Regions from separate parts of the Homo sapiens genome. Here region 1 is linked to region 2. The links come from fine-mapping of genetic effects on plasma protein levels. A gene starts in region 2. The other region holds a variant in brackets. All regions are shown on one strand. Distances are between the middles of the regions.

Region 1 (3,998 bases), 82 kb before region 2:
AGAAAACAGTATGACAGTTCCCCAAAATATTAAAATAGAACATGATATGATCCAGCAATTCAACTTCTGGGTATATACCCGAAACAACTGAAAGCAGGGACTCGGACAGATACTTGCTCGTTAATGCTCAGAGCAGTATTTTTCACAATAGGCAAAAGGTGGAAGCAACCCAAGCATCCACCAACAGATGAACAGATCAACAAAATGGATATATAAAATACACACACACACAGAGAATATTATTCAGCCTTTAAAAAGGATGAAATTCTGATACATACCACAACATGGATGGACCCTGATAACATTATGCTAACCAAAATAAGACAGACAGGAAAAGGACAAATATTGTATAATTCCACTTGAATGAGGTACCTAGAATAGGCAAATTCATAGAGACAGAAAGTAGAATGATGGTTACCAGGGGCTGGAAGAAGAGGTAATGGAGAATTATTGTTAAATGGGTACAGAGTTTCAGTTTGGGGTGATTAAAAAGTTCTAGAGATGGATAGTGGTGATGGTTGTACAACATTGTGAATGTACTTAGTACCCTTGAATTGTACATTTAAAAATTGTTAAAATGGTAAATTTTATGTTATATATATTTTATCACAGTTAAAAAAAAAAAAAAGAGTACAGGTCCTGAGTCAAATAGACCAGCTTCAGTCCTAGCTCTGCTACTTATGAGCTATGTGGCCTTGGATATGTTGCTTGACTTCTTAAAGCCTCAGTTTCTTTTTCTGTAAAATAAGCATAATTACAGTACCTACCCTGTAGATTATTGTGATGAGTCAGTAAGACACAGTTTATGAAGTATCTGGCATATTTATCTCCAGAATACCTTCACATCCTTCAGTAGTTACCTGCTGGATAACCTATAACCTGCAGAAGTATTTTTCCCATCTGGCTAGATGTAACCTCTAGGAGAACATCCCCAGATGGCCCAAGGACACAGGTTCCAAAGCTAGTATTATCTCTCACAGTAGAGTTATAAATTGCATTCTAGTTTATTTTATTTTATTTATTTTATTT[C/G]GGTTTTTTTGAGACCGAGTCTCACTCTGTCACCCAGGCTGGAGTGCAGTGATGCAATCTCAGCTCCCTGCAACCTCCACCCCCCAGGTTCAAGCAATTCTCCTGCCTCAGCCTCCCAAGTAGTTGGGACTATAGGCGTGAGCCAGCACATCCGCTAATTTTTGTATTTTTGGTGGAGAAGGGGTCTCGCGATGTTGGCCAGGCTGGTCTTGAACTCCTGGCCTCAAGTGATCCACCCGCCTCCGCCTCCCAAAGTGCTGGGATTATAGGCATGAGCCACTGCGCCTGGCCAGATTTTTTAAAATCCAAGATATAGACAAACTAACACCAAACAGGCTAAATGAATATATGAATTTGGCAAATTAAAATCTGGATGCTTGACTATGGAAGTTTCCACCAAGTTATTGTTCATTTCCAAGACAACATATTACTGTAGCCCTCAAGACCCCTTCCTTTTATAGCTCTCCCTGACACATCCCACCAGGATGTCCTAAACATCATCCAAAAGCTCAGGTCAAAAATGCATATTGGGCCAGGAGCGGCGGCTCATGCTTGTAATCCCAGCACTTTGGGAAGCCAAGGCGGGCGTATCACTTGAAGTCAGGAGTTCGAGACCAACCTGACCAACATGGTGAAACCCCGTCTCTACCAAAAATACAAAAATTAGTCAGGCATGGTGGCATGCACTTGTAATTCCAGCTACTCGGGAGGCTGAGGTGGGAGAATTGCTTGAACCCGGGAAGCGGAGGTTGCAGTGAGCTGAGATAGTGCCACTGCACTCCAGCCCGGGCGACAGAGCAAGACTCTGTCTCACAAAAAAAAAAAAAAAAAAAAAAAAAAAAAGGATATTGACATGTTTTAATGTGCCCAGAGAAAAGCCTGGAAAGACACCCAAATAACCATAACTAACTAAATAGTAGGAGAAAGGGAAGTTTGAGGAAATGTCTCTTTTTGTTTTTTTTTGAGACGGAGTCTCACTCTGTCGCCCAAGCTGGAGTGCAGTGGCGTAGTCTCGGCTCACTGCAACCTCCACCTCCTGGGTTCAAGCTATTCTCCTGCCTGAGCCCCCCGAGTAGCTGGGATTACAGGCATGCGCCACCACACCTGGCTAATTTTTTTGTATTTTTAGTAGAGACGGGGTTTCACCATGTTAGTCAGGCTGGTCTCGAACTCCTCACCTCATGATCTGCCTGCCTCGGCCTCCCAAAGTGCTGGGATTACAGGCATGAGCCACCGGGCCCGGCCGAAATGTCTCATTTTTACTAAATGTTTGCTCTTCTGTATTATTTCACCTTCCTTAAAAAAGCATGTATTACTTTGTCATGAAAAAATCTAATCCATCAATTTTTTTTTTTAATTTTGTTTTTTGAGACAGGGTCTCACTCTGTCTCCCAGGCTGTAGTGCAGTGGTGCAATCACAGGTCACTGCAGCCTCAACCTCCTGGCCTCAAGTAATCCTCCCACCTCAGCCTCCTGAGTAGCTGGGACCACAGGCACGCACCACTATGCCTGGTGATCTCAGCTCACTGCAACCTCCACCTCCTGGGTTCAAGTGATTCTCCCTGCCTCAGCCTCCCAAGTAGCTGGGATTACAGGCACTTGCCACCATGCCTGGCTAATTTTTGTATTTTTAGTAGAGATGGGGTTTCGCCATGTTGGACAGGCTGGTCTTGAACTCCTGACCTCAAGTGATCCGCCTGCCTCCGCCTCCCAAAGTGCTGGGATTACAGGGGTGAGCCACTGCACCCTGCCTATTTGTAGCAATATTATCTTTCCTAGTACTGTCCCTGGAAATAATTTCCTACACTCTACTATTTTATAAGGTTTTTTAAAATCCCCAATTATCATGCTAATACATTCCAAATAAAAGAAGTAGAATAGGAATACTTTCAGAAACAACAGAACATGACTGAAATGGCAGAGTGTCTGTTAACCTTCTACACCCTTGAGTACCTCCAATCTCCACAAACGTGATGACTGCACTCCCGGACTGTCTGTCATAGTCCACGCGGTCCACCTCTCCGCCTCCATTTCGGGACTTTGAAAAGCTCAGCTCTAGTTTGTCTCTCATTTGATCTTCACGCAATGTGTCAGGAATTTCAGTAACATTGATTTTCATTTTAGAAACTTCTACATAAACCTGGAAAATGATTTGATGTTCAGAAATATGGATGAGAGAAGTGCTTGTGATGAACAGAAATCCAAAAAATTTTAATCATCCTGTTACCTGGAATCTGACTCCTGAATTTAATGGAACTGGCTTGGCCGTAACCTCCAGATTTACATCTTTTATCTGTACATGATGTTTACTCATGCTTACCACATTTTGAGCAACTGAAAAATAATTCAGGAAGGAAGTATTAATTTCCAATATTTTAAGAATTGTTATGCTTTTGGTTTAAGAACAAATTATCCTGAATATTTTTAATTTTCTTTAATATTAAAGGGTCTAATTTTAAAAATTTGGCGGGCGGTGATTCCAAGTGATAATGGTCTTGCTACCAAAGTAGAATATATAATTTGGGGGGTCAGGGGGAAGGAGGACCAGATCTCATTCTGTCACTGAAGCTGGAATGCAGTGATGTGATCATAGCTCACTGTAACCTCAAACTCCTGGGCTCAAGAGATCCTCCCACCTCAGCTTCCAGAATAGCTATGATTACAGGTGCATGCCACCACGCCTAGCTAATTTTTTTAACTTTTTGTAGAGACGAGCTCTCACTTTGTTACCCAGGCTGCTCTGGAACTCCTGGACTCAAGCAATCCTCCTGCATCGGACTCCCAGACAAAGTTCTGGTATTATCAGGATGAGCCACTGCTCTTGGTCCCAAAGTAGAATATATTAATGTCAAAGTATATCAGCAAAATCACAATGTAGAAGTTCTCAAGTTCTAGATTCTTCTCATAAGATGAATCTTTTCTCTTATCTCTTAAGAGATAAGCCTAACAATCTTCCAGAATTCATATAT
Region 2 (8,534 bases):
TTGTTTTCAAATATATGTGCTTGATTCTTTGCTCCGGGCTTCATAGGTCATAGAAATTTTTCCTGAAAGCCGATGGAAGTAAGACTTACTCTGTAGGCCTCAGTTTAAGGATGAGCCAAAGTTTTAAGGATTTCAGGTTACGAAGGTGTGATGATGTTCACTTATAGTTCCAGCCACTCAGGAGGCTGAGGCAGGAGAATCACTTGAGCACAGAAGTTGGAGGTCAGCCTGGGCAACATAGCAAGACCTCACTTCTCAAATAATAAATGAATAAATAAGGGCAGCATAGCAGTGATTTACAACAGGTAGAATTTGAGCCAGCTGATCTCTTGGTTTCTAACACTGAGTTCGGTGATTCCCTGACTAGTTAGAGAAGACAAGAGGCAAGGAAAGAAGACATGTTTTCAAGACTTAGAGGAACAGGAAGCAGTCTGATTGGAATAAATGCATATGGGGGGGGTACTGGTCAATAAATTTGGAGAGGCAAATCATAGATCGAGGAGCTGTGTGTTATTAGGAGTTTGGGAGGTGGGCAGAGGAAGAATATTAAATCCATTAATCACTGTCTTCTTTTCCTCATTCTTATTTCCTCCTCTTCGTATTTCTCCTTCTTGTCTTAGTTTTTGCATCTGAATGTCCTTAGACTGCTAACCTTTTAAACTTACCCTTTGTTTTAATATCTATATTAGCTCACTTCTTCCTACAAATCAGGATAGATTGTTATGCTAGCAGTAATAAATGACCCCAAAATCTCAATAACGTAAAATAACAAAAGTTTATAGTTCATTCATGTTATATAAAATCCAGGGATCAATTGGAATCAGGGTGAAAGAGCAGCTGTCATCACAAATGTTTCCCGCCATGCCAGAAGGAAAGAGTTCTGGAGCATTAGCAATCAAATTCTCACTCTAAGATGACATACATAATTTTTGCTCACATCTCATTAGCCAAAAATAATCACATGGTTCCACCAAACCACAGAGGGACACACATACAATGCTATCATGTTTGCTGGAAGTTGACAAGCTGGAAATATTTGGTGAAGATTACTAACAACTGTCACACTGCATTAACAACTGGAAGTCCGACATCAATTTTGGATCTCTTTCTGACATCTGTTTACCCATAAACTTGAAAGTGCATTATTCCATTCGGTGTTGTACATAGGCTCATATTCACTGTCTCAAAGCTTTTTGATATACAATAATTAAATAGGCTGGGCATGGTGTCTGATGCCTATAATCCCAGCACTTTGGGAGGCCGAGGTGGGCAGATCACTGGAAGTCAGGAGTTCGAGACCAGCCTGGCCAACATGGAGAAACCCCATCTTTACTAAAAATACAAAATTAGCCGGGCATGGTGGCGCATGCCTGTAATCCCAGCTACTCGGGAGGCTGAGGCAGAACTGCTTGAACCTGGGAGGTGGAGGTTGCAGTGAGCCGAGATTGTGATTGCACTCCAGCCTGGGCAACAAGAGCGAAACTCTGTCTCAAAAAAATAAATAAATAAATATTTCACTTTTCCAAAGATTTCCCATTGTTCTAGTTAGGCTCTATCCTGCTCACTGACCCTGTAAAAGTTTGCACTGATTATTGAATGAACGAGTACAATGCCACATGTTTCATTTCTTTAAGTATGTTCTATGTCACACATAAGAATTTCTCTCCAATCATTTTAAGTCACACTCAAGGGGAATGGGTTTTTCTTCATTTATTGCTTTTATTCCTATCCTAGTCCATGTGGAGATTCTGGGATGGGTGGGGCATTCCTGTATTGCAATTTTATGTCCTTATTGGCAGTGTTAAAAATGTCCTGTATTGACATATTTTGTGATTCACGGAGCTCCACCCTTTGCTAATCTCATCTTGGTTTTTTTCCTGCTCTTTCCAAGATTGCAACATATGCTTAATAAAGGATATAATTTATATTTTAATTTTCATACAGTGTATCAAAGAATTGCATTTTTGCACATCTTGCCATTCAAATCCAGTCTTAAGTATAATCAGACATGTTGTCTTAGAACCTGTTTTCCTTCTCTCTTTCTTTTTCTCCTGTCTATATTCACCTGACACTTCTCCATCCCTTTTTCCTGTCAGCTGAGACTCAGCATGTCAAAAGGATATAAAATATTTCCTCTTAACTGCTAATAGATGTTTAAAATTCTACTTTAGCGTCTCTCTTGCTGTTTTTTTTCTTTCGAGACAGCATATCGCTCTGTTGCCCAGGCTATAGTGTAGTGATATGATCATAGTTCACTGAAGCCTCCAACTCCTAGGCTCAAGTGATCCTCCTGCCTCAGCCTCCTGAATAGCTGGGACTGCAAGCACACACCACCACACTGGCTAGTGTCTCATTTTTTCAGTTAACTTTGTGCAATAGTGACATCATTAACTATCGTGGCAGCTTAAGAGATCTTAAGCTTGTTCAGTGCAGCCCTATCCCAATTCAGATATGGAGTTCTCTCCACCATGCCTTTAGGTATCTAATAGCTGCTTAGGCTTACGGGCATTGGAACATTGTAGAAAAGCAACCAAAACAGGAACTCCTCTACAAAAAGCAGTCTTGCTGGGTTTTCAGCTAGTGGTGATATGTGCGAAAGGAGCCACTGCACATCTTGACCCAGAGATAGTGGAAGGGGAGGGCATTCCTCTGAGAAGGCAAAATACTTGACTGGTTAAGTCTTCCAGAACCTTGAAAGGAACTTTTTTTTTCTTTTTTTAAGATGGAGTCTGGCTCTGGCACCCAGGCTGGAGTGCCGTGGCGCGATCTTGGCTCACTGTAACTTCCGCCTCCCGGGTTCAAGCGATTCTCCTGCCTCAGCCTCCTGAGTAGCTGGGATTACAGAAGCAAGCCACCACACCCAGTTAATTTTTGTATTTTTAGTAGAGACGGGGTTTCACCATATTGGTCTGGCTGGTCTCAAACTCCTGACCTCGTGATCCTCCTGCCTCGACCTCCCAAAGTGTTGGAATTACAGGCATGAGCCACTGCATCCGGCCTGAAAGGAACTTTTATCAGTGTATCTTCTCTCAGCTCCTCATGAGGCTTATCCTGGGTGGTGTGTGCTGGAGGCTGGGCAGAGGGTGCTTCTTAGACAACTTCCAAGGTAAGTTCATAGGCAACATTTCCTTTGCTACTCTCTCTTTTCTTCTCTCTCGTCCTCAGGATTACCCTCTGCATCTTTTCCATATGAAAACCCCATTTCCTCTTTCCTTTATTGAATGCCCCTCAAAATCAGAACTTACATCATTAGGCATTATTCTCTATTTCCTTGATGATATGGAGGATGAGATTTTCAGACACTATGCAGAGGTAAGGGGAAATATTTATATTCTGCATGAGAGTTGGGAGAGGGGAGAAAGAAATCCTCCACCCCAGATCGGGTTAATTCATCAAAGCAACTCATTAAATTTTCGTGTTAAAAGAAGTTGAACATTCACACTTCGCTCTACTTGGAGCTTCATTAAAATGCAAATGAACACAGAAGGGTATCTGTTCTTAGTTATCTGGCCTAACTAAAGATTAATTGCAAACCCTTTCCTGAGAGTAATTTTTGATAAATGAGAACTAGGGGGAAATTAGGTGCTTGAGAGAGATGCAGAAAGGGCACAGCTGGAGGATGTGACAAGAAAAGAATTGGAAAGACTATGGGAAGGTTTTGCTGTAGCACTGCACAACTAAAGTTATATTTACTTCCTAAACCACAAACTTAAAATACGCATATAATTATACTTTCCAAAGAAATATCATGGTTTATTCCTTCCAACTACCTATGAATCTTGCTCTCAGTAACCATGCCTGTCTTCTCCATAGTCACACCCACCTGGTCTAAACTATACCTTTCTCTTTTGCAACAAACTTAAATTCACTAACCCTATCTGTGAACTTGGATACAATTCCCTCATCTTTCATGTGCCACCAGTCCAAAATAAAGATTTTCAATGCTAGTAACTTTATGTATACCTCAGTGAGCATCCAATAAATTCTGTACTCTCAGCCTACATCCCCATAACTGCTCTTTTGAGAAGAGATGAGACCAGAACACACCTGAGATGTTCAAAGCAAAGATGTCTAAGGGATTCAAAGCTAACTTCAAACCAGAGCATGTCTAGCAAGTTGGCTTTTTCAAAGAACTCCAACATCATTGGAGGGACTAAGAAAGCATGGGAGAAATGAATGCTATAATAGGAGTGAATGGGAAGCAATTTGAGACCAAAAGTAGAGAATCTAAGTAGCAAAAAATGACCAATTTTGTAAAAAAATCAAAAGTTGCCAATAAATGGCTATCAATGAACAATAGGAAATGCCATTAGCATCAGCGGTAGTGGGAGTATTATCAGATATGTTACCCAAGGATTCTACACAAAGGAAGAGGAAAGTTTGGGATATTTGAAGACATGATGACTTTACTGTAATAATTATTATCTATTACCTTGATCGTCTTCTTCAAAGTTAGAGTGGTCTAGGGAAGCTAGGGACAAGTTTTTATTAACTTTGTTAGTCTACCCACCTTTCTCCCAACACTTCAAGAATTTGTGGCCTGGGAAAACTGTGTTATAATAGGACATCCCAAAGCTGCTGGAACATCCTGACGCTCTGAAATTGAAATACTTTTCTGGGAGCTGATACATTTATTTAGCTGCTGACCATAACACACCAAAGACTGCAACAGACCCCACCCTGGAAGAAAAGCAGGCAGAGAATAAGGAAGTCATATATCACTGGAGAAAAATTAGGATTCTCCAAGCTGTGCATACTTTTTGTTTTAAATTTTTTACACAGGCTTGACAATGTTTAGAAAAGCCAGTCCAACATTACCAATAAAAGATTAGTGTTTAACCCCATATCCCATAATTGACACTGCAAATAAGACATTTAGGATTTATCTTGAAATTCCTACTGAAGTTCGATTTTCTTTTAATCACTGCTAAATCTGCATCAAGTTACACAAACTTTCTAACAGAAAAGTGTTTGTGACTAACAATAAATGAACTCCGTTCTTAGTAAGTTAATTTTAAAACATAGATGATCATTCTATCTCCTTAGTTTTGGTTGCCAATGCAAATGAGTCAGAGGATTTGCTTCAGACACTGAGATAATTGTGTAACTCTACAGCGGAAAATGCCATTGGAGAGTACTTGCTGACCTCACAGTTGAAAAAAACTATTTAAAAGATGTGGAAACCAGATGTTTCAGTCACATTTCAGCCACTGCTCTGAGAATTTGTGAGCAGCCCCTAACAGGCTGTTACTTCACTACAACTGACGATATGATCATCTTAATTTACTTATTTCTCTTGCTATGGGAAGACACTCAAGGATGGGGATTCAAGGATGGAATTTTTCATAACTCCATATGGCTTGGTAAGAACCTTCACTCATGAGCCTCTTGTTGAGAATGTCAATTCTTTAAATCATGGAGAAGGAAATTTAAAGCAGTAACTTTTTCTATTCTGTACAAGGCTGATGTTCTCAAAGAAAATGCTTAGGAAAGATAGCCTTTGGAATACATACGCTTTTTTTTTTTTAAGCGTTCTTGTCCTCTAAAATTTAAAAATAGCATTTTATAAAGTGAATTGTTCAGTAGAAAATAGCAGTTAATATTTATATTCAGTATGAAAATATATTTTTAAACTTTTCAAAGCAGATGTAGTAGTACAGTGAGGAGTATTTCTTTAACCAACTAGAAACTCCAATATAGTCTTCTGTTTTTATGTCAATGCATTTGCAATCAGATTTCAGAATCCTAACAGGTAAATTGGAGTCTACGAAAATTTTATAATAATTGCTTCATGGACTCTGAGCTATAGTCTATATCTTAGTTTTTTCAAACATTTTGACTATTTTGACCAAGCCAGCTTGCAGTACAGAAAAAAGTGAAAAATGTTTCTCCTTCTGAATGCATTCTTACCACTTTGATTCTTTCTGTTTCTACTATCCATATAAATACTTTTCTGACCCTTTTGTTAGACAAGGAAAGTTTCTTTTGTTATTTTGTTTTGTTAAATGTAAGGAATGAGACAGGCCAAACAGTGAAGATAAACAATAGATCAAAAAAGGAAAATGCAGAAAATCCAAAACACCCCTTAGATTACAGTATGCTAAACAATGCTTTAATTCTCATGATACAAATTGATATTGCTCTATGTTCATTATTGTGTTTAATAGTAAAAAAAAATTGAATTTCTTGGGGAAAAATGCATAGATTCTTGCATAGAATAAAGAAATAAAGAGAAGGCGAAATTAACCTAGATTTTGATTTTATGCTTTCTAAACAGCACAGTTGTAGAATATTTTCCCTTTCAGCATGTTTCTCTCTGGTAATAACTGCAACCATGCGGATTTCATTAAAAAGCCTAATTTGTAATGCACAGCCTTGCCGCCTATTTTTTTCAGCTTGAGCCAGTGAACTAATTTCACTGTGATCCATTTGGCCAAGACGGGATCTGAAATTTAGTAGAGGAATGAGCCCATCTCTTTATTTTAGTTGAATACAGTCAAATATAGGAAATACACTCATATTTGTCAGGATTTTTTTTAAATGTCATAAAGCTAGTAAGAATTAAATCCAGGCAGATAAACTTTGAAATATTATCAAACCCTCTAATAATCAAGTAATTTAGAGTTGTCTTTTAAAGTGTTGTCATATGTTACAAAAATATAAACCTGGACAATAGAAGTTTTGCCCCAGAGGTAGAGAGAAGCAAATTCAAACGTCTATTAATGTATGCTACAAATCTGAGGGTCAGGATAATTGCAAATTGCTTCAATCTGGGGCAAATTTTTGACCAGCCAGCCTAGCACAGATGTTTATAGTTGGTTGGATCAATATAATCTTTTTAGAAACCATTTAGGAAGGAAAGATAGTTGGATTAGAAGGGATACATCTGTTAGCAACTATCAAGAACAGGACACTTTAAATCTAGGGTGTCCCATCTTTTGCCTTCCCTGGGCCACATTGGAAGAAGAATTGTCTTGGGCAACTCATAATTTTTTTTTTTTTTTTTTTTGAGGCAGAGTCTCGCTCTGTTGCCCACGCTGGAGTGCAGTGGCACCATCTCGGCTCACTCCAAGCTCCGCCTCCCAGGTTCACGCCATTCTCCTGCCTCAGCCTCCCAAGTAGCTGGGACTACAGGCACCCGCCACCACGCCTGGCTAATTTTTTGTATTTTTAGTAGAGACAGAGTTTCACCATGTTAGCCAGGGTGGTCTCAATCTCCTGACCTCGTGATCCGCCCACCTTGGCCTCCCAAAGTGCTGGGATTATAGGCGTGAGCCACCGCACCTGGCCCAGGGAACTCATAATGTTTTAAGAAAGTTTACAAATTTGTGTTGGGCCACATTCAAAGCCGTCCTGGCAGGCCGCAAGTTGGACAAGTTTACTTTAAATTCTCTAGGTTATGGTTCCAATCTGGTAAAATGATAAGGTTGAAGTAAAGGATCCCTAAGGCTTATTTTAACTCTGGTATCATCTAATTTTTAAAATAGTACTTAAAACAAAAACAAACCACAGTTAAGGACAAGAAATTACAATCATTTTACATGGATCATGAGAATAAAAAATGCACAGATAAGCAATTATTTTTATTGTTGAATCTGAAAAAGAAGGGAAAGGAAGGTGGGATGCAGTGGTTCACACCTGTAATCCTAGCACTGTGGGAGTCTGAGGTGGGCAGATTGCTTGACCCCAGGAATTAAAAAGACCAGCCTGGGCAACATAGAGAAACTCTGTCTCTACCAAAAAAAACACAATTAACTGGGTGTGGTGGTGCATGCCTGTAGTCCTAGCTACTCAGGAGGCTGAAGTGGAAGGATCACTTGAGCCCAAGAGGCAGACGTTGCAGTGAGCCGTGACCTCACCACTGCACTCAAGCCTGGGTGACAGAGTGAGACCTTGTCTCAGAGAAAAAAAAAGAAAGAAAGGAAAAGTGACGTATCTTGAGTTCCTTCTATGGTCCAGAAGCTATCATTAGTCCCATTTGACAAATGAGGAAACTGAGGCTCATCTGGTTATACAACTCCATGGTAGAAACAGCAGTGGAACCAAAGTCCATTTCTACTGCCGCCACTCACTAAAAGGAGAAAACATTTATTAAACAAATTTTCAGTTTTAATAAATGACTATTGACTAGATAAATTAATAAAATATTATTGCTTCTGAAAGGTAAAATTAGGATTCATTGTACAAAGGTCCATCTTAATAGCTCAAAATTCTGAATTGAGAAATATTTTTAATAAAACACCTTATTTAAAATTGTCAGGTACATACTCCAAGAGTTCTCTATTTGTTCATATGGCAACATACTGGGAAGTTTGGCGCTATTAGAGGAACAATGTGGAATGTTAATATTTAATAAATTAAATCAGAAATTATAACAAAAATTTTTTGCTATTTCTGTTATTATGTTATTACTAGACAAGTTTCAGTAGGTACCAAAAGTTTAAGAAAAATTACTGAGGGTGGGAGAAGGGAGAGGAACAGAGGTACTGGGTTTAATTCCTGGGTGATGAAATAATCTGTACAGCAAACCCCTG

Evidence for each region. A credible set is the group of variants that fine-mapping cannot tell apart. PIP is the chance, under the fine-mapping model, that this variant and not a neighbour inherited with it causes the effect. Protein levels are from the aptamer-based SomaScan assay of Sun 2018.
Region 1: its variant is the best candidate, but not a certain one, in a credible set for the plasma level of the TNFAIP6 protein (Sun 2018, PIP 0.71).

Annotation. Positions count from the first base shown.
Region 1 is chr2:151,272,502-151,276,499 of GRCh38, forward strand. NMI (N-myc and STAT interactor) reads right to left here. Exons shown (of 8, transcript NM_004688.3): 5 at 3,257-3,363; 6 at 2,983-3,169. Among named protein-coding and RNA genes, the nearest start is that of RBM43, 13 kb to the left of the region's middle. The variant C/G (reference allele first, on the strand shown) is at 1,030.
Region 2 is chr2:151,352,398-151,360,931 of GRCh38, forward strand. It overlaps TNFAIP6 (TNF alpha induced protein 6), which reads left to right and starts at 5,195. Exons shown (of 6, transcript NM_007115.4): 1 at 5,195-5,363. The coding sequence starts at 5,270. The region is part of intron 2 of LOC101929319 (a long non-coding RNA gene); the gene reads right to left.